Linked DNA regions of Homo sapiens. The protein of the gene in region 4 interacts with the protein of the main gene of each other region in a pairwise test. Each region holds a gene or a part of one and is shown on either strand. Other genes may lie near its edges.

Region 1 (7,029 bases), on a different chromosome or scaffold from region 4:
CAAAAATTAGCTGGGCATAGCGGTGCATGCCTGTAATCTCAGCTACTTGGGAGGCTGAGGCACAAGAATCGCTTGAACCCAGGAGGCAGAGGTTGCAGTGAGCCGAGATCGCGCCACCGCACTCCAGCCTGAGCAGCAAAGTGCAACTCTGTCCCAAAAAAAATAAATAAATAAAATTAAAATATCATAATAGAACATTAATAAATAGAACGTCAATATATCTCAAAAACACGTTGAAAGAATCCAAACACAAAAGAGCACATACTGTATTACTCCCTTCATATGAAGTTCAAGAATGGACAGAACTTATCTGTAGTGCTAGAAGTCAAAACAGCAGCTACCTGCTATTGTGGTAACAACATACAAGTGGTATTTACAGGAAGAGGATATGAAGGAGCTTTCAGGAGTGACAGAAATGTTCTAGATCTTGATCTGTGTAGTGGTTACATGGGTGTCTACATATGTCATAAAATTTATCAAGCTGTTTGCCTAAGATCTGTACACTGTATGTAAATTATATCACTATCATAAATTATAACATCATAAAATGATGTTATAGTGGCTCCTAAATGTTAAAATATATTAATTAATATTAATTAATGCTCGACCTCACTGTTAATAAGCAAAATGCATATTAAAACTATGAAACACCATTTTTACCTATGAAAGTGGCCAAAATAAAATAGACAACGCATTACACTGGTGAGAATGTGAGTAAATAGATATTCACACATACTGCTGAGGGTACATAGAAATTGGAGCCAACTCTGTGAAAGGCAATTTGGAAATAGCCTCACATTTTTAAATGCATATGCTTTATGACCTCCACTTCGAAAAATTTATCCTGTAGACATACTGCACATATGCAAAAAATATTTATACAAGGTCATTCAACTGTTTGTAATAGCAGATGATTAGAACAACCCTTAATGTCCACCAACAGAGGCCTGGTTAAATAATGGCCTATCCCTACAACAAATTATACAGTTGAATGAGATAGCTCATGTACCGTGTAATCCGAGCCCTTTGGGAGGTCAAGTCTGGAGGATCCTTGAGGCCAGGAGTTGGAGACCAGCCTGGGCAACATAGGGAGACCCTGTCTCTACAAAAATTAAAAAAAAATAGCCAGGTGTGGTGGCATGGGCCTTGTGGTCCCAGCTACTCAGCAGGCTGAGGCAGGATGATGGCCTGAGCCTCGAAGGTGAAGGTTGCAGTGAGCCATGATTGCACCACTGCACTCCAGCCTGAGCAACAGAGTGAGACCCTGTCTTGAAAAACAAAACAAAACCAAAAAAGAATGAGATAAATCTTTATGTGCTGATAAGGAAGGGTGTCCAAGACTCTGTTTTGTTTTGGGTTTTTTGTTTGTTTGTTTTGCTTTTTGTTTTTTGAGACAAGAGTCTTGCTCTGTCGCCCAAGCTGGAGTGCAGTGGCTCCATCTCAGCTCACCGCAACCTCTGCCTCCCGGGCTCAAGCAGTTCTCCTGCTTCAGCCTCCAGAGTAGCTGGGATTATAGGCGCCCGCCACCACACCCGGCTAATTTCTGTATTTTTAGTAGAGATGGGGTTTGGCCATGTTGGCCAGGCTGGTCTTGAACTCCTGACCTCAGGTGATCCACCCGCCTTGGCCTCCCAATGCTGAGATTACAGGCGTAAGCCACCGCACCTGGCCTAATTTTTGTATTTTTAGTAGAGACGAGGTTTCACCATGTTGGCCAGGATGGTCTCCATCTCCTGACCTCATGATCCGCCCACCTCAGCCTCCCAAAGTGCTGGGATTACAGGTGTGAGCCACTGCACCCAGCCAGAATTTTTATATTTTTAGTAGAGATGGGGTTTCACCATGTTGGTCAGGCTGGTCTCGAACTCCTGACCTCAAGTGATCCTCCCGCCTCGGCCTCAAAGTGCTTAGATTACAGGCATGAGCCACCACACCCAGGCTGTTTTTGTTTTTAAAGGTGCAGAATGGATGTATAATACGCTACCATTTGTGTAAAAAAAGGTATGCATGTATATATGTATTTGCTTATAAATGTATAGTAGGTTTTTGGAAAGATCCACAAGAAGTTGCCTTCTGAAAAGGGAACTGTGTGGCTGGAAAAGAGGGGTGAGAAGGAGAAGGAAACAATATAAACCTTTTCATATCCTTTGCATTTTGTCACATGTGCAGGTAAGACATTCGAAAGTTAAATTGAAAATTGTAAAATATAGCCAGGCATGGTGGTACATGCCTATAATCCTAGCTACTCAGGAAGCTGAGGTGGGAGGATTGCTTGAACCCGGGAGGCAGAGGTTGCAGTGAGCCAAGATCACACCACTGCACACTCCAGCCTGACTCCATCTCAAAAAAAAAACAGAAAAATTGTAAAATAATAAAGTTATGTAAAAATATTTAACAATGGCAAAATAGTAATAATATTTTGTTTGAGAAAAAAGGTTACAAAACAATATATAGTTTATGATATATAATCTTATTAAAATTAACATATGTATATATGTAGAAAAAACACTGGAAAAATACATCAAATTATTATTAATAACAGTGCTTCTTTGGGGTGGTAAGATATTGGGTGATTTTTAGCTTCTTCGGTGTCCTTTCCTTTGTCTTGAACTTTGTTAACAATTAAAATGTATTAGTGTTGTAATTACATTATTTTTAATATTATTAAAGAAAAATCTACCTTAATTTTGAATTGTAATTAATTTTAAATTGTAATCTACCTCAATGTTTCTCCCACCCAGTGGCCAAGAAACAGAAACAAGCAAAATATGTCTATCTCAAGCCAATGCCTCTCATCTTTTTTTTTTTAATTTCCTTTTTCCTTTATTATGTGACATAAGACTTATTGACTTCGTATCAGCATTTAAGTATGTTAACTTTATATAATAGCATTTGGGTTGGGGATTGGTGCATTTCCGGTTGTACGAAGGATAGTTGTATTATATTAGGCGCATAATTATGACCTTATTATTGTCCTTATTTGAAGATTTGTACGATCTCAGGAGATGTGTATGGGTTCAAGTTGATGAGGGGTGGAATTGTGATGGTTAATACTGAGTGTCAACTTGACTGGACTGAATGATGCAAAGTATTGATCCTGGGTGTGTCTGTGAGGGTGTTGCCAAAGGATATTAACATATGAGTCAGTGGACTGGGAAAGGCAGATCCACCCTTAATCTGGGTGGGCATCATTTAATCAACTGCCAGTGCAGCCAGAATATAAAACAGGCAGAAAAATGTGAAAAGATGAGACTGGCTTTCTCATCTCTTTCCCACCAACAATCTCTATCCATGCTTCATGAAGCCAGGCACCCAGCCAAAGGGGATTAAATGTAACTCTCAAGCCAATCTTGCCCCTCCCCTCCCCCCACAAACACATGGGCACCAACACACCAACCACCCCACCCCAGCCCCCACACACACTCCCTCAAAACATTCCCAGTTACAGGATCTAGAAGGCTCCACAGACGCATTAAAATGGAGAGCGCTCTCCAAATGCTGAAGCCAATTATAGCCCCTTTTCATCAGGAACCCCTTTACATCAGTCTAGGCTGGGAAGAAAGAAAAGAGCAGAGAGGGAAGAAGGAAGAGATTCTCAGATCTGAGTCTAAAAGATACCCAAGAGTGGGCTGGGCGCGGTGGCTCACATCTGTAATCCCAGCACTTTGGGAGGCCGAGGCGGGTGGATCACGAGGTCAGGAGATCGAGACCATCCTGGCTAACACGGTGAAACCCCGTCTCCACTAAAAATACAAAAAATTAGCCGGGCGTGGTGGCAGGCGCCTGTAGTCCCAGCTGCTTGGGAGGCTGAGGCAGAAGAATGGCGTGAACCCGGAAGGCGGAGTTTCCAGTGAGCCGAGATCGCGCCACTGCACTCCAGCCTGGGTGACAGAGCGAGACTCCGTCTGAAAAAAAAAAAAGATACCCAAGAGCTAAAAATTGGTGCATTTAGTAATCTCCTGAGCAGGGAAAGCCATGTGACATGAGATATGATTTCAGGAGTTCTGGGAAGGCCTGCTACCTACTTCTGTATTCTTGGCTGGGCTCTAAAATTCCAAGCCTGGCTCTTTATGTCTTTAAGTTGTTTATTCCTTTTAAAATGTAAATTTGTTTTTTCTTTTTTTTCTTTCTTTCTTTTTCTTTTTTTTTTTTTTTTGAGATAGAGTTTCACTCTTTCGCCCAGGCTGGAGTGCAGCAGCATGATCTTGGCTCACTGCAACCTTCGCCTCCCAGGTTCAAGCGATTCTCCTGCCTCAGCCTTCCGAGTAGCTGGGATTACAGGCGCCCACCACCACGCCCGGCTAATTTTTATATTTTCAGTACAGACAGGGTTTCACCATGTTGGCCATGCTGGTGTCGAACTCCTGACCTTGTTATCCACCCGCCTCTGTCTCCCAAAGTGCTGAGATTATAGGCGTGAGCCACCGTGCCCAGCCAATTTGTTTTTTTAATTTTTATTTATTTATTTATTTTTGAGACGGAGTCTTGCTCTGTTGCCCAGGCTGGAGTGCAGTGGCAAGATCTCGGCTCACTGCAACCTCCGCCTCCCAGGTTCAAGCAATTCTCCTGCATCAGCCTCCTGAGTAGCTGGGACTACAGGCAGCCACCACCATGCTCGGCTAAGTTTTGTACATTTCTTTTAATTTTCTATTGATTATACTCAGGATGAATTAATTTTGCCTGATTTTTTTTTCATTACTGCTCCTTGTACAGCAGGGCTAACCCATGGGCAATGTGCCTAGAGAAAAGTGATCTTTTCATGAAAATAACTAGACCAGTGGTCTTCCACTTTTCCTGCCCATAGACATGGGAAGCACCACCATTATTTACAGCTCTCATAACACACAATACTCTGAATCAGACTGTAGTATGTTGTGGGAGGTTCCTTATCAGAATCTGGGGGAGTATATAGATAGTTAGCAAAAGCCATATCTGATGTTCCTCTCCCCTGCCTCTGCGCAGGCCACTCCATGGGCTATGGATCACAACCTTGATCCAGATTTTCTTGAAGGCAGGGATTCCCTTTAAATCCCCAACACCAAACACAGTCCCTGGCCTATAGGATGCTGATGTAGTTTGGATGTTTGTCCCCTCCAAATCTCATGTTGACATTTGATCCCCATTGTTGGAGGTGGGGCATGGTGGGAAGTGCTTGGCTCAAGGAGGTAAATCCCTGATGAGTGGCTTGGTGCCTTCCCCATGGTAATGAGTGAGTTATCGCTTTATGAGTTCATGTGAGAGCTGGCTGTTAAAAAGAGCTTGGCACCTCTTGCTCTCCCTCTTTTTCCCTCTCTCGCCATGTGATTCCTGCTCCCTCTTTGCCTCCCACCATGACTGGAAGCTTCCTGAGGCCCTCATCAGAGCAGATGCTGGTGCCATGCTTCTTGTACAGCCTGCAGAACTGTTAGCCAAATATATCTCTTTTCTTTATAAATTACCCAGCCTGGGGTATTCCTTTATAGCAACATATAGAGGACTATGACAGATGCTCTTCATAAATATTTGTTGACTAAACATAGATATTGACAAGGAAGGGAGCAAGAAGATACTTGGGATCTGGAGGTTTGCATGAAACAATTAGTAAAAAGGAAAAGTGTTACCCACTTCCCAATTTTGTCAAAGCTAGCTTGTGGGGAGATAGCATATAAAATAGTGATAATATCTAACTCTTATTGAGGGTTTACTGTGTGCCTGCCATGTTACAAAGCAGTTTATATGCATTATCTCATTTAATGTTCACAGTAATCCTAGGACATAGATACTATTATTATTACCACTTTATAGATGACGAAACAGGCTCAAAGAGGTCAGGTAGCTTCCCCACAGTCACATGGCTGAGAAATGGTAGAGCACAGTTTCAAATTCAAGCAATCTGATTCCAGACCCACACTGCAAAGTGATCCAAGAACTGAAATGCCAACACTGTGTCAGAGCCTTATCAAGGCTTTTTCTTCCCCTACTCCATATCCCCCCTCCTCACATTTGGGCATTTTTCCAAGTATTTCCAGACAGAACTAAAGCCTTTCATCACTCCCTTTTTCCAACCTCAATCCCATTTTCAGAAGTATGTAATTCTGCCACCCACCCTCTCTACCTCCAGGTAATCGAAGACTCTGTGAGTTGTTAATGAGAAATAGTCACAGAGTCCCTCCTCCTCTTAGAAATGTCGCCGAAATCCAATCTCTCTCCCACCCCCAGCAGTCTAAGTGCTCCTTATAGCCTTCTCTGAAGGGCCTCTCTTCAGAGTCCCACAGTCCAGGGTTCTTTGTTCTCTTTTAATTTAATCACACTCCGAGCCTCCCTGGTGTCTCCTCTTCCATTTGTGTATCCCAGCACCTTTCTGTACTTTTCTATCATGTGTGCTGACTGAAGCTAATTGGGGCTGGGGGTTTAAGATCAGGGGTCCAAAGATGACCAACCTGTTCAACCCTCAGTAAAGCACTTGGTATAAGCTGAACTTCAAGTGCCAGGCCTGATTTCCATAGTGACACCCGTGGGGATTGTTGCCATGGTAATGCTGGAGAGACACTGGCCACAATGAACGTTACTTCTCGTCTCCATTTTTCTTTATGAGACTCCCCCAAAGCAAAGGACAGCCCTGCTCCCCACTTCAGATATCAAATCCCAGGCCACCCCAAACAATACTGATTCTGCTCCAATAACCCTGCAGGTCCCAACCTAGCTTTGCCAAGTGAGGTACACAATGGTCCTAGTTTCTTGCATTAAGAACCCACTTAACCATTGGGAGACCTGAGGGAGGTAGCTGTGTACACTTGAATGAAGGGGAAAGAGAAAGAGTGTGTGTGTGTATGTATGTGTTTCTTCACTGTCATCCCTCCCACATCTGGTACAGATGCAGCAGTCCAGACAGCAGGCACTGGGACACTGCTGAGAAAGACCAAGGCAGAGGAAGACAGACACTTAAATGGGTCTGGCGAAAAAGTCACACTGGATTCTGAGTGTGCAAAAGCAAAACAAGATGGGCACCACACACAGACGGTGACCCAGACACCCTTCTGCTATGACTCA
Region 2 (7,423 bases), on a different chromosome or scaffold from region 4:
CCTTCTCTGCTCGAGGCCACAGGACTCCTGCGGGGACCTGGAAGTGTGCCCCGGGCCCTGAGAGCACGTGGTGTCTTTCTAAGAGTGGACTCTCCTCTCTGCCTCTGGTCCAAGCCACTGTGAGCCTCTGAAGTCTCTGCAAGCAGGCAGGTCTCCACGTCTTACACAATACTGGCCCCACTTCAGTGAGCATGTCAGAGGAAGTGTGGCAATGCCCCACAGCCCGACGAAGGGGACAGGGAGGAAGGAGGGTCCTGTCTCTCCAGCTCCTGGCTGTGTGGTGCAGTTGGGTAGGCGAGCTGGCCAGCATGGCTGAGCCGGCCCTCAGAAGCACGCCTTCATGTCCTGGGAAAACACCGATTGATGAAACCCAATCCTTCCCGTGCTCTTCTGAACATGCACAAACACGCACGCCGCCAGCCTCCTGGGAGTGCGCAGCGCCCCTGGAGCCAAGCTTTAGAAGGCAACGCCACCTTCACAATCAACTTGGCCGCCCACCACCTGAGTCAGGAGTTACCAATTCTGGGGCAGTCACTGTCAAGTGCAGGACCAGGAGGCGGCAGGTGCAGGGGCCTAACGTGTGAGCCCCCAATGCCCCAGTGGGCCTTACACTTCCCCCACCTCAAAATGGACACAGAGCTCTTCCTCCCTGGCCCTTTCCAACCCCTCCTCCAGGCTGAAGCCAGGAGCACAAGCTTCCAGAGCCCCCGGTGCTGCTGCCCACTGCTGAAGCCATGCCAGGAGGAAGCGCGCTCAGCCTCAGTCCAGGTAATCCCACGCTCTGCCAACCCCCGAGTTGAGAGAGTGGGGGATGCTGCGCCCACACTCTCAGCAGCCAAAGGCAGACAATTCAGCAAATAGCAGACGCTCAGGGCAGTCAGACAGGACGGACAAGAGCCCAAGAAACAAAGCAAGGGGAGAGGGCAGGGACCAGGAGAGGTAAGTTCGCCAGCGTAGATGGCATTCCCTGAAGCGCAGATGGACTCTGGGGAGGCTGGATGCTGACTGCTCCCAGTTCATCTGGGGCCACATCCCATTCGGCTGGGTCCAGGCCCCCATGAGAGGGGATGAGGACCACACCGTCTCACTCACTCTGTTAACCACCTAAATTAAGAGGCATGCTCAGGCAGGCAAGCCCCAGTGATGCCACCTATCTAGTGTATTTTAGCCATGCCACTGGAAGTTAAAAACAAACGTTCAGGCCAGGCGCAGTGGCTCACGTCTGTAATCCCAGCACTTTGGGAGGCCGAGGTGGGCAGATCATGAGGTCAGGAGATTGAGACCATCCTGGCCGACATGCTGAAACCCCGTCTCTACTAAAATACACACAACAAAATTAGCCGGGCGTGGTGGCATACACCTGTAGTCCCAGCTACTCGGGAGGCTGAGACAGGGGAATCGCTTGAACCCAGGAGGCGGAGGTTGCAGTGAGCTGAAATTGTGCCACTGCACTCCAGCCTGGCGACAGAGTGAGACTCCGTCTCAAAAAAAAAAAAAAGAAAGAAAAGAAAAGAAAACAAAACAAAACAAATGTTCAGTAACTCATTACAGAGGTATTTTCTTCTAGCACAAAGCGTTGACTCCCTCAGCAGTAAGCAAATACCTCAGGGGAACAGCGTGCCTATAAGGACCTGTCATCTGTGCACGCTCGAGACAGGGTCCCAAGAGCAGCCCAGCAGCACCTGCCACCAGACCTGGGTCCGTGACACCTTCCCCGGGCCCATGACACCTTTCCCCAGATCTATAACACCTTCCCTCGGACCCCAGATGATCCCAGACCCATGACACCTTCCCTTAGGACCATGATGCCTTCCCCCAGATCTATGACACCTTCCCTCAGACCCCAGATGATCCTAGACCCATGACACCTTCCCCTGAGATCCCAGACCATGACACCTTCCCTTAGGCCCATGACACCTTCCCCTGAGATCCCAGACCCATGACACCTTTCCCCAGATCTATGACACCTTCCCTCGGACCCCAGATGATCCCAGACCCATGACAGCTTCCCTTAGGACCATGATGCCTTCCCCCAGATCTATGACACCTTTCCTCGGACCCCAGATGATCCTAGACCCATGACACCTTCCTTTTGGCCCATGACGCCTTCTACCGGGACCATGACATCTTTCCCCGGACCCCAGATCCTGGACCCATGACACCTTCCCTCGGACCTATGACACCTTCTCCCAGACCCCAGATCCTGCACCCATGACACCTTCCCTCCGGCCCACGACACCTTCCCCCGAGCCCATGACACCTTCCCTCGGACCCCAGATGATCCTAGACCCATGACACCTTCCCCAGGCCCATGACACCTTCTCTAGGACCCATGACACCTTCCCCTGGGCTCCAGATCCCGGACCCATGACACCTTCCCCTGAGATCCCGGACCCGTGACACCGTCCCCCAGACCCCGGGTCCATGGCACCGTCCCCGCTGGGCGCGTCCCTCTGGTCCGTCCTCCTGCCCCCCGGCGTCACCTCGGGACTGGAGCACGGGCACCCCGCAGCCACCGAGCTACCGAGTCTGGAAGCCAGGCAAAGGCGTTCCTGGGAACGTTCGGCGGCGCTTGGAAGGGCCGGGCCGAGGGCGAGCTCCGTGCCCAGCTCGCCGGGCTCGGGCCCCGCGTAGCAGCGCGCGCCGCGGGCCGGGCCTTACCGTTACTGTAGGCGTACGGGGACTCTGCCGCGCCGTCCTGCAGGCTCTCCAGGATCTCGCCCTTGCCCACGTCGCTGTCGCCCACCAGCAGGAACTTGAGCAGGTAGTCGTAGCTCTTCACCGGACTGCCCTGCGAGCCCATGGCCGCGCCGCCTGCGCCCCGCGCCGGCCGCCTGCCGAAGCACCGCCGGGTGAGGCCGCGGCGTGAGAGAGCCCGCGCCCCGCACCTGCGCCCGTTGCGTCCGCCCCACGGCGGCCGAGTGGGCGCGCCCGAAGCCCAGCGCCGGCCCCGCCCCGCCCGCGCCCGGGCGCACCTCAGCCTCGCCGCCGCCCCGCCGCTTCCCGCACCACCAGGGCCGCCGCGCCGCCCCACCCCCGGCCGCGCCGCCGCCATTGGCCACCCTTCGCCCGCCCTCCCGAGCCCATTGGCCCACCCGCCCGTCCGTCACGACTTCCCCGCCCTCACGGCGTTCCACACGGCGCCGCCAGACCTCCGGTCGCACCGCCTCTTCACCACCCCGCCCTGCCTTCCCGTAGTCACCAGAGGTCGCCCGCCGCCCTCCTTCCCTCAGCCATTGGCCTGTCTGCACGTCTGTCATGACCGCCCCTCCCCCGCCTTTCCCACACGGCGTTGCGGAGACAGCGGACGCCTGCCTCATCGCCGTCGCCATTGGCCACTCGCCTCCTGCTTTCCCGGAACCATTGGTTCGATTATAAGTTCACCAAGATCATTCCCTTCCCTGCGGCTGCCTCCCAGAGAAATCCCAGAGCCGCCGGCCGCCCCGCCCCCGGCCCACAACGCCGTTGTCCTCGCCCGCCCCGTCGCCGGCGCCATTGGGTCGCTTGCATGTCCATCACGGCTCTGCTAACCCCGCCCCTTTCCTACACGCTCGCCAATCAGGGGCTCGGAAGTCCACGTTGTTTGTATCCGCCCCTTCAACGCGCGGACGGGCGGCAGGATGCAGGCGCGCCCGAGCCGAGGCGATGCGGCTGAGTCCGGGAAACGAAAGCCCCTCGCAGGCTGTGCCGCCTGCTTCCGCAGAACCCTCGGAGGGAGCGGCGGGGTGGCCCCGGGCGCGTCCTCTCTAAGGCGGTGCGGCCAATCGGCGCTCGATGAGGCGGAACTTCCTCTCCGGGGCAGGGGCGGGACTTCCGCCCGGCGGCGGCGGGGCGCACCGTTGGGTCACCAGTGAGTCTGCAAAGTCGCTGAGGTTCTGGGACAGCGCGGCGTCACCGAGCGTGAGCCTTCCGCCCGGGGACGCGGCCGCCACAGCTCGGGACGCGGGGAGCGCGGCCGGCGCGAGCTCAAGACCCGGCCCGACGTGCTCACTGCGGCAGCGGCGCCTCCTGGACGGGGACCCAGGGCCCGGACCGCGCTCTTCCCGGGGGCGCCGCCGAGCCCTCGTCCCTGCCGGGCCCGGCTGCCGCAGGTGCGTGGGCGAGCGAGGCGGCTGCGTCCGCGGGCCCCGGCGTGGGGTCGGGGGTTGAGTGGGCACGTGGTTCTTTCTGGGGTGACGAGAAGGTCCTACCGTCGTGGGGATGGTCCTGCCTCTCTCGGTGAAGTTACTCACTCGGAACGGGTGAGCTTTGTGATACGTGCTCTGCGTTCAGTAGCGCTGTTACAGTCGTAAGTAAAAGCAGTAACGTCAGCGCCGACCCAGCGCAGCCCTCTCCAGACCGGGTGCGGAGCCCGTCACGTCTGCCCCGCCGGCGAGGAGCAGAGCCCGGCAAGAACCCTCCTCCAGAGGGGCCCCGACCAGGGCTGTGCCTCCGGGAGCAGGTGCTGCTTACACAGAGGGACGCCAGGACGGGCAGCCCCACACCTCCAGTGACCTCCCGTCCCCCAGAGCTGAAGACATGGCCTGACTAAGCGGCGACCACATCGACGCACCAGTTTTTTCTTTTTTGAAACAGGGTCTCCCTTTGTCGCCCAGGCTGCAGTGCAGTAGCGCGATCTCGGCTCACTGCAGCCTCTACCTCCCCGGCACAAGCGATCCTCCAGCCTCAGCCTCCCGAGTAGCTGGGACTACAGGCGCCACCATGCCCGGCTACCTTTTGTATTTTTTGTAGAGATGGCGCCTTGCCAAGTTCCCCAGGCATTAACCCGGAAACAACCTGGCGGGTCAGGGAGAGCCTCTTCTGCTCAGAGGTCATTGTGCCCAGACTTGAGCCCTGGCTGTGAAGTCCCTGAGGCCCCTCACTCCAGGGACGGGAAGCACCAAAGATGTGATGTTTCCTCCTCGGTTTCTGAGACTGCCTGGAAGCGGGGGGTGGATAGTGGTGAGCAGCCGTCTCCTCCTTTCCTGAGAACATAAATCAGAAACGCTTTCTGAGGCCGGGCACGGTGGGTCATGCCTGTAATCCCAGCACTTTGGGAGGCTGAGGTGGGTGGATCACCTGAGGTCAGGACCAGCTTGGCCAACATCGTGATAACCCCCTCTCCACTGAAAATACAAAAATGAGCCAGGCATGTTGGTACGTGCCTGTAATCCCAGCTACTTAGGAGGCTGAGGCAGAAGAATTGCTTAAACTCGGGAAACGGAGGTTGCAGTGAGCTGAGATTGTGCCACTGCACTCCAGCCTGGGCTACAGAGTGAGACTCTTGTCTCAGGAAAAAAAAAAAAAAAAAAGTGCCTCAAAAATAAACAATTAAAAATGTTCTTATGGTCTTCACAAAAATAAACTTTTTTAAAAAAGAAAAACAAAGTAAAACGCTCTCCAGACCCAGCCGTGGGCCACTGCTGCCTAGTTCCCACCTCCTGGGACAAGAAAGGGTCATCCCCTGGCTGATGAAGAAGTCAGGTTTCTCCCACTGGAGCTGCCCACCACAGCCTGTGGACACAGCCCTGTCCTGGGTTCCTGGGTTCAGGAACCTTTCCATAGGGTGAGATCCTTGGAAAGCTGCTGTGCCCTCTGACCTCCCAGCCTCCGAGCAGAAAAGTGTCCCAGGGAACCCAGATGGGTCTAGGGCAGCAGGCCCAGTGAAGGGAGGGACGGACTCTGGGGCAGCAGGCCCAGTGAAGGGAGGGACGGACTCTGGGGCAGCAGGCCCAGTGAAGGGAGGGATGGACAGAGGGGTGCCATCCTCTGGCATCCAGGCCTTGTGGACCGAGGGGCAGCTGCGTGCACTTACGCAGGGTGTCCTGGGGTCCACCATGGCCAAGCCAGGCCTGGGCAGGGGCAGGACACCATCCCTGCAGCTGAGAGATCTCAGGCCAGGGACAGGGCAGCCAAAGACAGTGGAGTGTGGGAAGAGACCTCCACCCAGAAGTTTGGGGTGAGCCACCACCTGGGCACCCACTTGTTGAGCAGTCAGGGTATTTCTGGGCCCATCTCGGAGGCCTGAGCAGTGTCTGGTGGAGACCCTGACAGCCCCCTTCTGCCACACCCCACACTCAATGGCCATGGCAGAGACGGGCCAGGACACTAAGCGGAGCCTCTGTCCAAGTGAGGGGCTTGGGAGACAAAGGGAGCAGTTTGGGGTGTCCACCCTGCCCCCGGGGAGCCCAGCAGCCGCCGGGATGTCCTCAAAGTCCTGCTAAGGGGGTGGACAGTTGCCCAGTGGGGCAGACAAGCCTTGGCCCCTGAAGCCCTGTGCCCAGGGAGCACCTACAAGTTTCAGCTACTCAGGGACCCCCCCCAGTCCTGGCCTGCTGCCAAGGGGAGGCCTCACTCACATCCCATGAGTGGACAGAGCCAATCACCTTGGTGGACACAGCGTGCAGTGGATGAGGGCAGTGAGGGATGGAGCGTCAACATGGTCCCATTTCTGTGGACAAATTAATGACAAGGGAATGTAGCTTTGCAGCGGAAAATCCTGCAGACAAGACCTCGACCAAGTAGTCACGTTGGCATCACTGGGATGAACAGGTGGGCTCTGTGTGCCACCCTGGGTGGTGCCCTCTGCTGCTGCCACAAGCATGAGTGGCATCTCATCATGAGGGTCACCAGCAGACCCAGCCAGGGACACTCCTGAGTAACGGGCTCCATCCCTAAGCCCCCAGAGGCTTTGGAGACTGGCCCATGACACGTGGGACACGCTGGAATGGGGTCGGTGGCTTGGACGGCATCCCTGCAAAAGCCCCGGGTTTGAGCACCGCACTGGCTGCCTTGTTCTGAGGAAATGCACGCTGAAAATTCCAGAGCCAAAATGGGCAGCTGACTCAAATGGTGCAGAAAAACATAAAGAATGTGCTGGCTGGGCCCGGTGGCTCACACTTGTAATCCCACCACTTTGGGAGGCCGACGCAGGCACATGGCTTGAGCCCAAGAGTTTGAGACCAGCCTGAGTAACACGGTGAAACCCCATCTCTACTAAAAGTACAAAAATGAGCCAGGCGTGGTGGTGGGTGCCTGTAATCCCAGATAGTCAGGAGGCTGAGGTGGGAGAATCACCTGAGCCCAGGAAGGTTAAGGCTGCACTCCAGCCTGGAAAATAGAGACCCGCTCTCAAAAAAAAAAAAAAAGAAAAAATGTGAAAACATACACATGGCATGTGGTCGTGGGGGGATGTAGGTGAAGGGTGCTGGAAGCATCTGTGTTATTCTCACAGCATTTCTGTAAGTCTGAATCTGTGAAGTACTGGTGAGACCCTTCTCTGTGGGCGGCCCCAACTCTGAAAGGGAAGGTGTCTGCTTCTGAGGGTGCCCTGAGGGTCCATAAATGGTCCTGGGCAGGCCTTGGAAAAGCTCCAGCCCATTGCCCTGTCTGGGTCGGCAAGGCAGGGGGGACCAGAGCTCTGGTGGAGGGATGAGGGGCACCC
Region 3 (7,294 bases), on a different chromosome or scaffold from region 4:
TTTGATATTGTATTTTCACATCTCATCTTGTCTACAAATGCCCATTTTTGACCTACAATTATTTTCAACTTACAATGAGTTTATCAGGATGTAACTCCCATAGTAAGTCAAGCATGGGGTATGGAGTATGTACAATCCATACTCTCACCTTAGCAAATGTTTAATATTGAGCCAAATGCAGAGGTTAAAAATATCAATAGCCAGCAATCCCATCATAATTAAAATTAACATGGTACTAGATCTTTCTAAGGATTTTTTATACATGGATATATGCACATGTACTGTACATGCATTACAAATACAATTCATAAAGCTGTTATAATTATATGTACAGTATAGCATCCTGGGTTTTTTGTTGTTATTTTCAGTTTTGCTTTTGTCTTAAGTACTAACATGTGGATGAAACATTCTAAGTACATGACAAGGTATAAGATATAATCTAACTTTGCTTTTTAATGAACCCTTTACAGCTGGCCCAGACCCAATTCCTTAACAATGCATTTGAGTAGAAATGCCATACTTGCAGCATCTTAAATGACGTTATATGCCAGGGTCTACTCAAGAGCTTTCTTTAGACTTCTTTAACCTGCATGTCAACCACTCTGTCCAAAACTTATGAAATTATACGCTCAAAGAACACTTTAATACCTGGCAAAGTAATCCCCACTTTTATCATTCAGTCTTTGTATGCATGATAGGAATAATAATAAAAGACATAAATAGTTACAGGGCACACGGTAGATAAATTGGTTGATACAGATCATGCAACCAGCAAGTAATGGTTATCAGGGTCAAATCCAAGTCCTTCTCACCCAAAAGCCCCCTCCCCTAACCACTATTTCTATACTGAGTATCCTTCTGTGTTAGACCAGAGGCCAACAGAGGGAAGAGACTCACCCCAAAAACCACAGTCAGTTGATGGGTCGAGTAACTAGGGTACAAATCTGATGACTCCTGTCTTCTGTCTAGCTGACTCATTATTATTCTTTGCTCTTCTGTACTATTTCTTCCTCCCATGGCTCAATAAGAACTCCTTCACCCACGTCACACTAGAAAGAAAATAAGAGAGCAGAGAGTACATGGAATCAAAGGAATGATAAGATAAAACCAACATTCATTTATTGCTACTATATTTCTAAATGCTCTCTGTTTCAAATCTTCTATTTCATAGGGCACAATTATTTTATCTTGGAACCAACAATCTTCGGAGAATGTATCCCAAAGATACAATTCAAAAAGATAAAAAGGCAGAAGCACAAGGTCATTCTTGGCAGAACAAATTGTAACAGCAGAAGACTGGAAATAAGACAGATGTCCACCAATAAAGGACTGACTGAATAATCTAAGGTGCATCTACATCCTAGATTTCAATGCCGGTATAACAAGCAAGGAAGATTCCCTCTCTCTGCTGCTATGTAGTGATTTCCAGGATATACCATTAAGTGAATAAAGCAAAGTGCAGAAAAATGTGTAGAGCTGCTGTTGTCCCATACCATACCCACTGGCCACTCATGGCTATTTAAGTTAACTAAATTTAAATGGAATTTTAAATTCACTTCCTCAGTCACACTCACCACATTTTAGGTGTTTAATAGTCACAGGTAGCTAGTGGCTACTATGTTGGACAGTTGAGACATAGAATATTTTCACCTTTGTAGAAATTCTATTGGACTCCACCAGTGTAGAATATGTCACCTTATATATATGGAATAGGAGAAAACTAATAGAAACATTCTATTTGCTTATATTTTTAAAATTGGAAAGTTTTAATGAAAATTGATTTAAAAAATCATTACCTATAAAGAGAAGGAAAAACAGCCCAGGACAGAAGCCAATAATGTCTTTTCCCTTAAAAATATAATATATATACACTGGCTCCATGCACTAGAAAGGTGAAGAAACATGATAGACCCAGTAGCAATGAGCAACTCTAGTGCCCATATTGAATCCACTTAAAACACATCACACTGAAAGGAACTAGGTTATCTTAGAGAAATGACTGAGTTTAGGTCTGTGTAGCCATTCTACTAGATGAATCTGGACCAAACTATCATGCCAGAGAGTGCGTCAAAAAGACTCAGAAGCCAAGCTTAAGGGGCTCTCGCTGGACAAAGATGAAGCAATTTGAACATTAAATAAAATAATGACTACTATGGATTAAAACACATTATAATATAAAAACTTCTACAGCTCATGATGACACTCTAAAAGAAAAATAAAATAAAACAAACAATATCAACTCATTGCTTGCCTTTGGAGAACCCTAGGGAAACAACTCATTGTTTTGAAAAGTGGAAATATTGCAAAAGAATTAGGCACTCATCCAACCCTTTCTATACATACTATCCCTCAGTGTAACCTAATGGTTTATGAAAGTTTATTTAATAGAATAATTCCAGCTAATAAAGCAGAGAAAATTATAGAATTAGAATATCATCCTTTTATGACCTTTAATGAATATAGAACTAAGCAACAATCCTTAGACGCTGCAGAAAAATCGAGGTGAAAAAGGGATGGGAAATTTTATAATGGATGGATCAGCTTAACAATACTTGAACATAGTAATTAATCTTAACATCACAAGAGGAGAGACAATTAGACACAATGAGCCCCCTGTGTAACACTATAGGAATAAACAATACCACATATGAAGTACTTCTGACCAAAACAAATCTAAATTGAATCAAGCCTCTGAATCTAACACCATTTTGTTAAATTTTTTTATTATACTTTTAAGTTCTGGGATACATGTGGAGAATGTACAGGTTTGTTACATAGGTATACACGTGCCATGGTGGTTTGCTGCACCCATCAACCCGTCATCTACATTAGTTATTTCTCCTAATGGTAATATAAAAAGAGAAAGAAATACTTGGAATTTGATTTGGAAAACCTTTCTCCTGTAGCCAGTCCACCTCCATGTGCTTGATACAGTTGACACTTCTTACCCTACAGGAGATTATTCAGCCTATCAGCCAATCTAGAAAATAAAATCATGAGGATCCATGTTTGGTGGTATAGGAACTATTAAGTTTATATTGGAACATTTTGCAAAACATGTTAAAATTAAGTTAAAATGAATGTGGCTCGAAATTAGGATTGTAAGATTTCGGATTTCAACTCAGTTTCCACAGAGAAGTTTGGTTGACCTAAATTTTAAATATGTTAGGAATAAGCCCCTGCTGCACATCATTATATTCAAAGTTCTCTGTAGCTTCATTTGTGAAAACAAATGGATGAATGGGTATATATTTGTAAAACATGTCTTTGGGATAAAAAGGCATTTTGAGTTCTTGGTTTTCAGGATGTTCCTTCTGGTATTCTTCAAATAAATGCTTCTATAGTATTATAAAGATAATTTCATTAACCTGCTAAAATGGGAATGTATTTGTCTATAGCTACAAGGTAAAAAGTGTTATGAATAATAATTTTAAGATGACAGATATTAAATAGTTCAAATATTATTGATAATAAGATTTTTTTAAAAAAGAAAATATATGTTCATCCAAAAGAATGAACATGAACATTCATAACACCATTATTCATGAGATGTCAAAAACTGGAAAATACACAAATCTCCATCACAGATAAATATAGTGTGAAATATCCAAATAATATAATACTTTACACCAATGAGAATAAGCAATCTACAATATAGACCACAATAAATATTAATTTCACATACATTATGTTGACTGAAAGAAGCAAGACACAAAAGAGCACATGCTGTATGATTCCAAGAATTTCTCTTCTAACCTCCCAATAGAGATTGGGGCAGGAGAGGAATATCAACAACTCATTTCCTTTTATTTCAAGGTACTTAGTGTCTTTTTATGTTATCTGTAGCTTAACCTCAGATAAGTGAAGCAACTTTCTTCTGAGCCCTTGAAAAGTGATTAATTACACATAAGATGAAAAGCTAATACTATATCTGATGGACAGGCAATGTGGTGTGAGAGATTCGGGCAAGAATCCTAAATGGATGCTCAGTCTGCACCAAATCACACCGCAGTCACTGAGTCACCATGGTAACCATTCTGGCCAAGGAAAGCTGAGAAAAAACAAACACCACTATCCCGAGCTTGTTCCTAATATGTACTAGGAACTAAATAGGATTGACATGATGCACAGTAATTAACCTCAAGTAGTCCTTACAATAAAAATTCCTGACAGCTTCAGTGACATACAAATGTATACATACTCACATACATATATGCTTGCTCACCCTCTCACCACTCCAAATTCCAAGAATTTATTGAGGTTGATTTACTGGTGGGTAAAGAAGTAAATCTCGCCAGGCATGGTGGCTCGTGGCTATAATCCCAGCTACTCAGATGGCTGAGGTAGGAGGATTGCTTGAGGTTAGGAGTGTGAGAGAAGTCTAAACAACATAGCAAAACTCTGTCTCTGAAAAATGTTTTTAAGTTTAGCTGAGCATGGGGGCACACACCTGTAGTCAGTTATTCAGGAGGCTGAGGTGAGAGGATTGCTTGAGCCTGGGAGTTCAAGGCTGCAGTGAGCTATGATTGCACCATTGCACTCCAGCCTGAGCCACACATTGCAACAAAATCATTTCTGACCACACATATAAAGTTGAAAGCTACTAAACTATGTTCTTTTGGTGTGATTTCTGAAGATGACCTGTAGAATTGTCTCTGGAACATTTTCCTCCATAGTTTCAATATATCGCCAATGACTTGTAAAAGCAGATACGGAAATACAGGTAAACACAGGTTAAGGATCAAATACCTTTTCCATCCTAGAGTAAGCTGTGCTTTCAACCAAAAAAATGCCTCACTGATGTTAAACACTTGGTTGCTGATAGTACTGTGAAAATATAGTAATTAGCAATTGTGTTTAACAAACAAAGCCATGTATAGCATCATCAAGAGTATGAAATATTTATGAACAATCTGTCCACAGATGTGCAGTGCCTGTACACTGAACACCACACATCATTGCTGAGAGAATTAAAGACCTAAATAAGTGGAGGACTTACCATGCTCATGGGTCACAAACAATACTGAGAAGATTCAGTATTGTTAAGATGTCAATTCTTCCAAAACTGATCTATAGATTCAGAGCAATTCAAATGGAAATCCTATTAAAAAATTTTTAAAGAAACCGACAGGCTGATTCTAACATTCATATGGACATGTAAAAGACCTAGACTCTATTAGTCTGTTCCCATATTGCTAAAAACAAACACATGAAACTGGGTGATTTATTTTAAAAAAGGGGTTTTCATGGCTTACGGTTCTGCAGGCTATATAGGAACCATAGAGGCATCTGCTTCTGGAGAGGCCTCAGGGAGCTTTAACTCATGGCGAAAGGTAAAGCGGAAGCAGGCGTTTTACATGGCAGGGAAGGTGCTACACACTTGTAAACAACCAGATCTTATGAGAATTCTATTATGAGAACAGAACCAAAGGGAGAAATCCACTCTCACGATCCAATCACCTCCCACCAGTCCTCATATCCAACATTGGGGATTACAATTTGACATGAGATTTGGGTAGGGACACAGTTCCAAACCATATCAACTATGAAGTACAACTTTGATAAAGAACAAAATTAGAAGACAAACACTACCTGATTTCAAGACTCCTTACAAACATACAGTAATCCAGACAGTGTGCTATTGGCATCAAGATGGATTAGTAGATCAAAGGAACAGAATAAAGAGTCCAGCTATAGACCCACAAGTATATGGACAACTGAGTTTGACAAAGATGCAATGGTGATTCAGTGGAGAAAGGATTATTGTTTCAACAAATGGTGCTGGGACAAGTGAATATTGACATGCACAAATATAAACTGTGACTCAGATATCACACTATATACAAAAGTCTATTCAAAATGGACCTGAGATCTAAATATAAAATTTGATGCTATAAAACTTCTAGCAGAAAAAAAAAAAACAGGAGAAAATCTTTTTGACAATGGGTCAGGTGAAGATTTCATAGATGAGACAACAAAACCACAATCTATAAGCAAAGAAATTGAAAAATTGGACTTCCTCAAAGTTAAAAACTTTAGCTTTCCAACTACATGGTTGAAAAAATAGACAAGTAAGCTGCTGACCGGGGTAAAATGTTTGAAAATTATATATTTAATAAAGGACTTGTATCCAGAATATGTTTAAAATCTTAGTAAGAAGAAAACACACACCAGTAAAGAAACAGGCAAAATATTTGAATAGACATTCCACTAAAGAAGACATACAAATATCATGTAAGCACAGGAAATGATGCTCAGCATCACTCGTTATAAGGGAAATGTAAATGAAAATTTCAATGAGATCCTACTAAACTCCTGTGAGAATTAAAAAAATTAAAAAGACAGATTATACCAAGCTCTGTCGAGGTTGTGGAGGATGAAACAGTGATACATTACTGGTGGTAATGAAAAATGGTACAAACACTTGGAAACAGGCAGTTTCTTACAATGTTAATCTTACATCTACCACATGATCCAGCCATTGCACTCCTAAGTATTTATTAGAGAAAGAAAGCCTATTTCCATGGAAAGACTTATTCACAAATATTCATAGAAGCTTTGTTTACAAGAGATCCTAATTGGAAATAATTAAAATATCCAACAACAGGTGAATGGATAAAAAATTTATGATATAGCCATATACTGGAATACTATTCAGCAATAAAAAAGAATGAACTATTGATATGTGCAACAAAATGGATACATCTAAAAATAAATTGGGTGAATGAAAGAAGCCAAACCAAAAATCAAAAACAAACGCAGAAAAACATTTCTACAATTCCATTTAAATAAATGTCTAGGACATAAAACTTAATCTATAGTGACAAAGTATTGTGTTTGTCTGGGGACAGGGCAATAGGAGGGATAGAGAGTCCTAGTAGTACAGAACTGAAAATCTTATGTTCTGGGAAACAATGATAATAATATTTAGGCCTAGCTGGTTATTTTAGGGGACATGACTGGGTATCATTATAATAGAGCAAATTATATGGAAATTATTATTTTTCAAAATATTGAACTTTTGTATCTGACATTTTGACAGTTTTAACTAATACTTTGTACATTTTTGCCTTCTTAAAAAATGTATTACAGAATGGATAATAACATGGTTACCATTGAAAAATGCATATTACAATCTCCAGTTGCTTGGAAGACCTTCTGACCAACTGTGTATTTCAATGCCCATCTGAGAGATACATGGGAATCACTGATCATTATTTATACAGGCAGAAAACATATGTAAATTTATTTCAAATACATGTTAAACATCAAGTTGATTCCCCAAATGAATTAT
Region 4 (5,704 bases):
CCGGGCATGGTGGTGGGTTCCTATAGTCCCAGCTACTCAGGAGGCTGAGGCAGAAGAATTGCTTGAACCTGGGAGGCGGAGGCTGCAGTGAGCCGAGATGGTGCCACTGCACTCCAGCCTGGGTGACAGAGCGAGACTCCATCTCAAAAAAAAAAAAAAAAGGGAAAAGGAAAAATCAGAACAAAGAAATTAGCAAAGCAACAGGGCTCATTTCCTGTTTGTTTGGGGTAGGAAGCTGTATTCATTTTATTCTTCTGATTTCCAAAGAAAAACATTTTTGTGGGCCCGGGACACTGTGCCTACTGGGTTAAGTAGGCCTTGGTCAGTAGATGAATAATGAGCTAAGTGATCAAGTTCCCATGTTTCAATCTCACATCTATAACTGAAAAATGTATATCCATTCAATGGGGACCCTTTTTCTCACACACAAAGCACATGTTTACAGCAGACAGGCTGAGAAACATATCATCTGCAGCCAAACAACTAAAAAAAAATACCATGACACAGTCAAGAATCATAAAGTTTACTGTTTCTTTTCCATCATTTGGCACATATCCAAGGCACATTAGAAAATTAGAAATCATAAATTACTTTGTAGAAAAATAATCCCTCCCTTCCTTCTGTACATACACAAGTATTTCCAAGAACATGGACAAAACCATTTCCCTATCACAAGGTCATTTGAAAACGGACTCAGGACAAACCCATATACGTGTAGCTCTAGGCCAATAACATAAAAATAACAGTATAATCTATAGAAATTTATAAAAAGGAATAAATGGCAATAAATTCTAACCGAAAGTAACTCTGACCTGGTTTGTGCTGTTAAGTTTTGAATTTGAATCAAAAGACTAAGAAAAGATGTGCCAAATCTACTCTCTAATCCAGTAACCATCCCGTCAGGTGTGAGTGTGACAGACATTCAAGGGAGGTTCTCAACAAAAAGGGATGTTTCTAGAAATACTGCTACAGGTGCACGTGTAGTAACCGAATATCTGTACCTACTTGTTAGAAGGAAAATGATAACCACCCTTTCCCATGTGCATGATGTGGAACAGGTCTGATGCATCCTTTCACTAAAATGAATATCAAAATGGGATTGAGGCATCTTTTGGTTCGAGTGTTGCTTTGCAAAGAAACATTGTCCAGCTGCTGCTTTCTTCCTTCAGATATGACATTTCAGCCTGGCCTCTACAGTACCATGAAACCTAAATTACTTACTTCTCTCCAGCTTAATCCTAGGTGGAGGAATTCTAGCTGTGGTTTGTGAATGTACACAGGTCAGAGAGGTTTAGCACCTTTTGGGAGGAGGAGGTCAGAATGCGGTGGTGAAACCTCTCCCACTGTGACCAACAAACCCTCATACTTAAAAAGAAGCATGCACCTCTGGCTTAAGGATCTGGATGCTACTGGAATTTTTGTCTGTTTCAATTGTATTCATTAGCTTTGAAGAGGAGAGAGATGGTGGTGGTTAACTTTTTTGTTGCATTCTTTCCTGCCACAGAAAAGCTTTCAGGAACTTGGTGCTGAAGACTTCTCAAGCCAGTCTCATGGAAGCACATTTAGTTCTCAGATGTGTTCACGCTCAGCATCATCTTGTTGCATCCTTGCTTCCTAGCAGTGGGTTCAACAACTCCTCATTCCTGTTAGGACCGGGAAGCACTAACCTCTTGGGGAGTGGAGAGGGGGCCAGCAGCCTCCGGGCCCTGGGACACGACCGCATCCTCTACCGTGTGTCTCCGCAGCATCCGTCTGTGTCCAGGGCCAGTCTGTGTCAGTCCAGGCCTCTCTGGCCAGTCGCTGTTGCCTTTCTCAGCAGCATGAGATCCACTCTGAGCTGGCAGGTTATTCTGTCTCAGTGTGACACTTTGCCTCCCTGGCTAAAGAAAAAGTACATTTTTAACCGTTGACGTCCTCACTGTACTGGAAGCCACAACCATGACAGTGACAGCTGCCCCTTAGTGCCTAGTGTCACATAATGTGCTCAGTGCTTGACAGGCATAATTTCAATTCTCACATCCCTGTCGTGGTAACATGGCATGTGCATACTACATGTGTCAGAGTAAATGTTTCACTTGTTTTCACAATCTTTATGACTCTAGGAGGCATGTACTACTATTGTTATCCCCGTTTTACACCTGAGGAAACAGGATCAGCAAAGTTAAGCCACCTGCCTAAAGTCCTACAGCTAGCAAGGGAAAAGCTAGCACTTGATGGAACTCAGGCAGATTTCAACGATTCTGGCTTTCCCACAAAGCAGCAGGTCTCCTAGCAACACCACATAAGACTAAATATGGTATCAAAATTAGTCATGTTAATTAAAATCATTTTAATTATCTAAAACAATTTAGAACTTTTGTGTATTTGTTCCAACAAGCCTATGCTACATATGCTATAAATTCTCATCAGCAACAAGGAAAGCTGTGGTTCTGAGAAGAATCACTGTCTCCGATCACAGGTTTTCAATCAAGCTTCTGAGTGATTTAAAAATGCAGTAGGGTCCGGGCACGGTGGCTCACACTTGTAATCCCAGCACACTGGGAGGCCAAAGCGGGCAGATCACTTGAGGTCAGGAGTTCAAGACCAGCCTGGCCAACGTGGTGAAACTGCGTCTCTACTAAAAATACAAAAAAATTAGCCAGGAATAGTGGCACATGCCTGTAATCCCAGCTACTCAGGAGGCTGAGGCGGGAGAATGCTTGAACCCGGGAGGTGGAGACTGCAGTGAGCCGAGATCGTGCCACTGCACTCCAGCCTGGGCCACAGAGCAAGACTCTGTCTCAAATAAATAAATAAAAAAATGTAGTGGGAAGATGGCCACATAAAGAATTGTCTGAGCAACTGTACACCATACTTGGAGACATCATTTACCCATCTATATACAAACTGTCGTTTTCTTTCTTTGGTGATTAAAACCATAGTGAAATGTGGGATGTTTCATCTCCTATAAGCACCAAGACCTGTGGTTTCCCACACATGTAACACTTTCCACTCCTCTGCTCAGAAATGTACTTTTAGTTATAACAATCAGTGAAGTCTGTACTCTACACTGTCCCATGAAATAATTCCAGTTTTAACTGCTGCTAACTCATACGGCGCACGGAATAATGAAGATGACGATCAAGGAGACGTGTTTACCATGGATTACTTTTGACAAAGCCGGGCTTTAGAAAATATGATTAAAAGCCAGTGTTTAATAACTTACCTCATGCAAAGAACCTTCGGTTAAATTAGGGACACTTCTATCTCTTGCCATAATCTCCCTTGAAGTCTTTCCCCTAAAACCCAAAATAAACGAAAATAAATATTTGGGACAGTGGCATGAAACACTCTGGTTGGCCACAAGGTGGCAGCATTTTTGACATTAGTAGGTGCAGATTTGTCCATAACCAATTACAATTGAAGCAGCTTACGTGCAGCTTGGAGTAAACTAGGGGCAAAAGCACAGAAATCAACTTGAGTTTCATACTCACTTAAACTGACCAGCTGAGTGGACAAAGTAAAACTGTCTTGTAAAAGGCTCATCTGGTAGATCATACAGTTTTGAGTTCCCTGTAGATAAAAAGATAAACATCTAAAAACTTCAAAAACAGTTGTAAAGATTATTTTAAAATTACAGCACAGACACAATCTTTCTATTCTCAGATTTACAAAATTTAGAAACTGAAGCACTGAATTTGCTTAAAGAAACACAGCTAGTACCTATTTATAACAGGTTGAGTATCTCCAATCCAAAAATCTAAAGCCTAAAATGCCACAGGCTGGGTGCAGTGGCTCATGCCTGTAATCCCAGCAGTTTGGGAGGCCGAGGTGGGCATATCACTTGAGGTCAGGAGTTCAAGACCAGCCTGGGCAACATGGAGAAACCCCATCTCTACCCAAAATACAAAAACTTAGCCAGGCGTGGTGGCACGCACCTATAATCCCAGCTACTCAAGAGGCTGAGGCAGGAGACTCGCTTGAACCCAGGAGGCAGAGGTTGCAGTGAGCCGAGATTGCACCACCACACTCCAGCCTGGGCGACAGAGCAAGACTCCATCTCAAAAAAAAGCTACAAAATCCGAGACATTTTGAACTCTTTGACTTCATGCTCAGAAGAATCTGATTTCCTGATTTGGATCCTCAACCAATGAGTATAATGCAAATATTCCAAAACCCAAAACACTGCTGGTCCCAAGCATTTGAGATAGGGGGTAGTCAGCCTGTATTATGAGAACCCCCATGAAATAGAAAAATAAAACCTTAACTCCCTTAACTCCCCCAGCCACAACCAATTACGGTGAGACAGTCTCAGGGTTATCGAGATATGTGAATGGGTTTATCCATATTATTGTATTGCATTATTGCATACCTCACTGGATAATATTTCATATTGTAAATTAAAAAAAAAAGTAGAACAAGGACCCCTTCTAAACTTTTTAAAAAGAAGAAAATACTTCAGTCTCACTGCTGTTCGGCAACTGCTGTTTTAATTATAATCAACCTCCGTACACGTACAAACTTAAAAAAAAATCTTGAGGCCAGGCGCGGTGGCTCACACCTGTAACTCCAGCACTTTGGGAGGCCAAGGAGGGCGGATCACTTGAGGTCAGGAGTTTGAGACCAGCCTGGCCAACATTGTGAAACCCTGTCTCTACTAAAAATACAAAAATTAGCCAGGCATGGTGGCACGTGCCTGTAATCCTAGCTACTCGGGAGGCTGAGGAAGGGGAATAACTTGAACCCAGGAGGCAGAGGTTGCGTGAGCTGAGATTGCACCACTGCGCTCCAGCCTGGGTGACAGAGTGAGACTCTGTCTCAAAAAAACTAACTAAATAAAAAATCTTGGTGGCTCACACCTGTAATCTCAGCACTTTGGGAGGCCAAGGCGGGCAGATCACGAGGTCAGGAGATGGAGACCATCCTGGCTAACACGGTGAAGCCCCTCTCTACTAAAAATACAAAAACAAAATTAGCTGGGCGTGGTGGCTGGCACCTGTAGTCCCAGCTACTTGAGAGTGGGAGGCAGCTACTTGAGGCAGGAGAATGGCGTGAACCCAGGAGGCAGAGCTGGCAGTGAGCTGAGATCACACTACTGCACTCCAGCCTGGGTGACAGAGCGAGACTCTGTCTCAAAAAAAAAAAAAAAAAAAAAATCTTGAAAGGTAGCATTTACCCTGGATGTCCAGGAAATGCCCAGAACACCTGACTTTGGAACATGAGGCATGAAAGAAACTATCCCAGAGACTGTTCCCCATCTCCATAGGCAGACACCTGAACCTTCAAGGTAGTGTTGACAGTTTCTATCCTATTTCCTCAGGAAACATCATTACCATCAACCAGAAAACTAGTAACAAAAAAAGCTTACCCATAGTCTGATAAATTGGGAGGTAACATACATTTCTTTGGTGCCTGTATCTCCTCCAGGCATGATTATAATTACACTTTACATATACAATTAAATGAACACCAGCAACTACTCATGAATGTCTAAATATACCCAACTTGAGCGTGACAGAAAGAACGTAAACTCTTACATTTTTTCCTGATCTTAACAGTGACATACTCCTTGCGGTCAGTTTCAGCCACATCATCTAATGAAGCAACACAGCTTGGTACCACCTGAAGCAATTCCATTATTTTTGAATTCTGCAATTTGAAAGGGAAAAGGAACAGTAATGTTTTTATTCTTTTTTAATAGGTTATTATTTGTTTTTGATCTAAA

The links.
Region 1: the proteins of ANKRD27 (region 4) and KIF5A interact in binary tests that used the Homo sapiens proteins (3 or more experiments, as listed by UniProt).
Region 2: the proteins of ANKRD27 (region 4) and RAB40C interact in a two-hybrid assay, tested with the Homo sapiens proteins (one study listed by BioGRID).
Region 3: the proteins of ANKRD27 (region 4) and RAB40A interact in a two-hybrid assay, tested with the Homo sapiens proteins (one study listed by BioGRID).

Annotation. Positions count from the first base shown.
Region 1 is NC_000012.12:57,553,036-57,560,064, reverse strand, and holds part of KIF5A (kinesin heavy chain isoform 5A), read right to left. Parts: intron 1-7,029. UniProt on the Homo sapiens protein: Microtubule-dependent motor required for slow axonal transport of neurofilament proteins (NFH, NFM and NFL). Can induce formation of neurite-like membrane protrusions in non-neuronal cells in a ZFYVE27-dependent manner.
Region 2 is NC_000016.10:585,672-593,094, reverse strand, and holds the start of RAB40C (ras-related protein Rab-40C), read right to left. Parts: upstream 3,030-7,423; 5' UTR 2,804-3,029; coding exon 2,662-2,803; intron 1-2,661. UniProt on the Homo sapiens protein: RAB40C small GTPase acts as substrate-recognition component of the ECS(RAB40C) E3 ubiquitin ligase complex which mediates the ubiquitination and subsequent proteasomal degradation of target proteins.
Region 3 is NC_000023.11:103,516,477-103,523,770, forward strand, and holds the start of RAB40A (ras-related protein Rab-40A), read right to left. Parts: upstream 3,014-7,294; 5' UTR 2,894-3,013; intron 1,468-2,893; exon of another isoform or gene 1,172-1,467; intron 1,050-1,171; 5' UTR 898-1,049; intron 1-897.
Region 4 is NC_000019.10:32,596,499-32,602,202, forward strand, and holds the end of ANKRD27 (ankyrin repeat domain-containing protein 27), read right to left. Parts: intron 5,629-5,704; coding exon 5,517-5,628; intron 3,553-5,516; coding exon 3,474-3,552; intron 3,279-3,473; coding exon 3,206-3,278; intron 1,881-3,205; coding exon 1,647-1,880; 3' UTR 508-1,646; downstream 1-507. UniProt on the Homo sapiens protein: May be a guanine exchange factor (GEF) for Rab21, Rab32 and Rab38 and regulate endosome dynamics.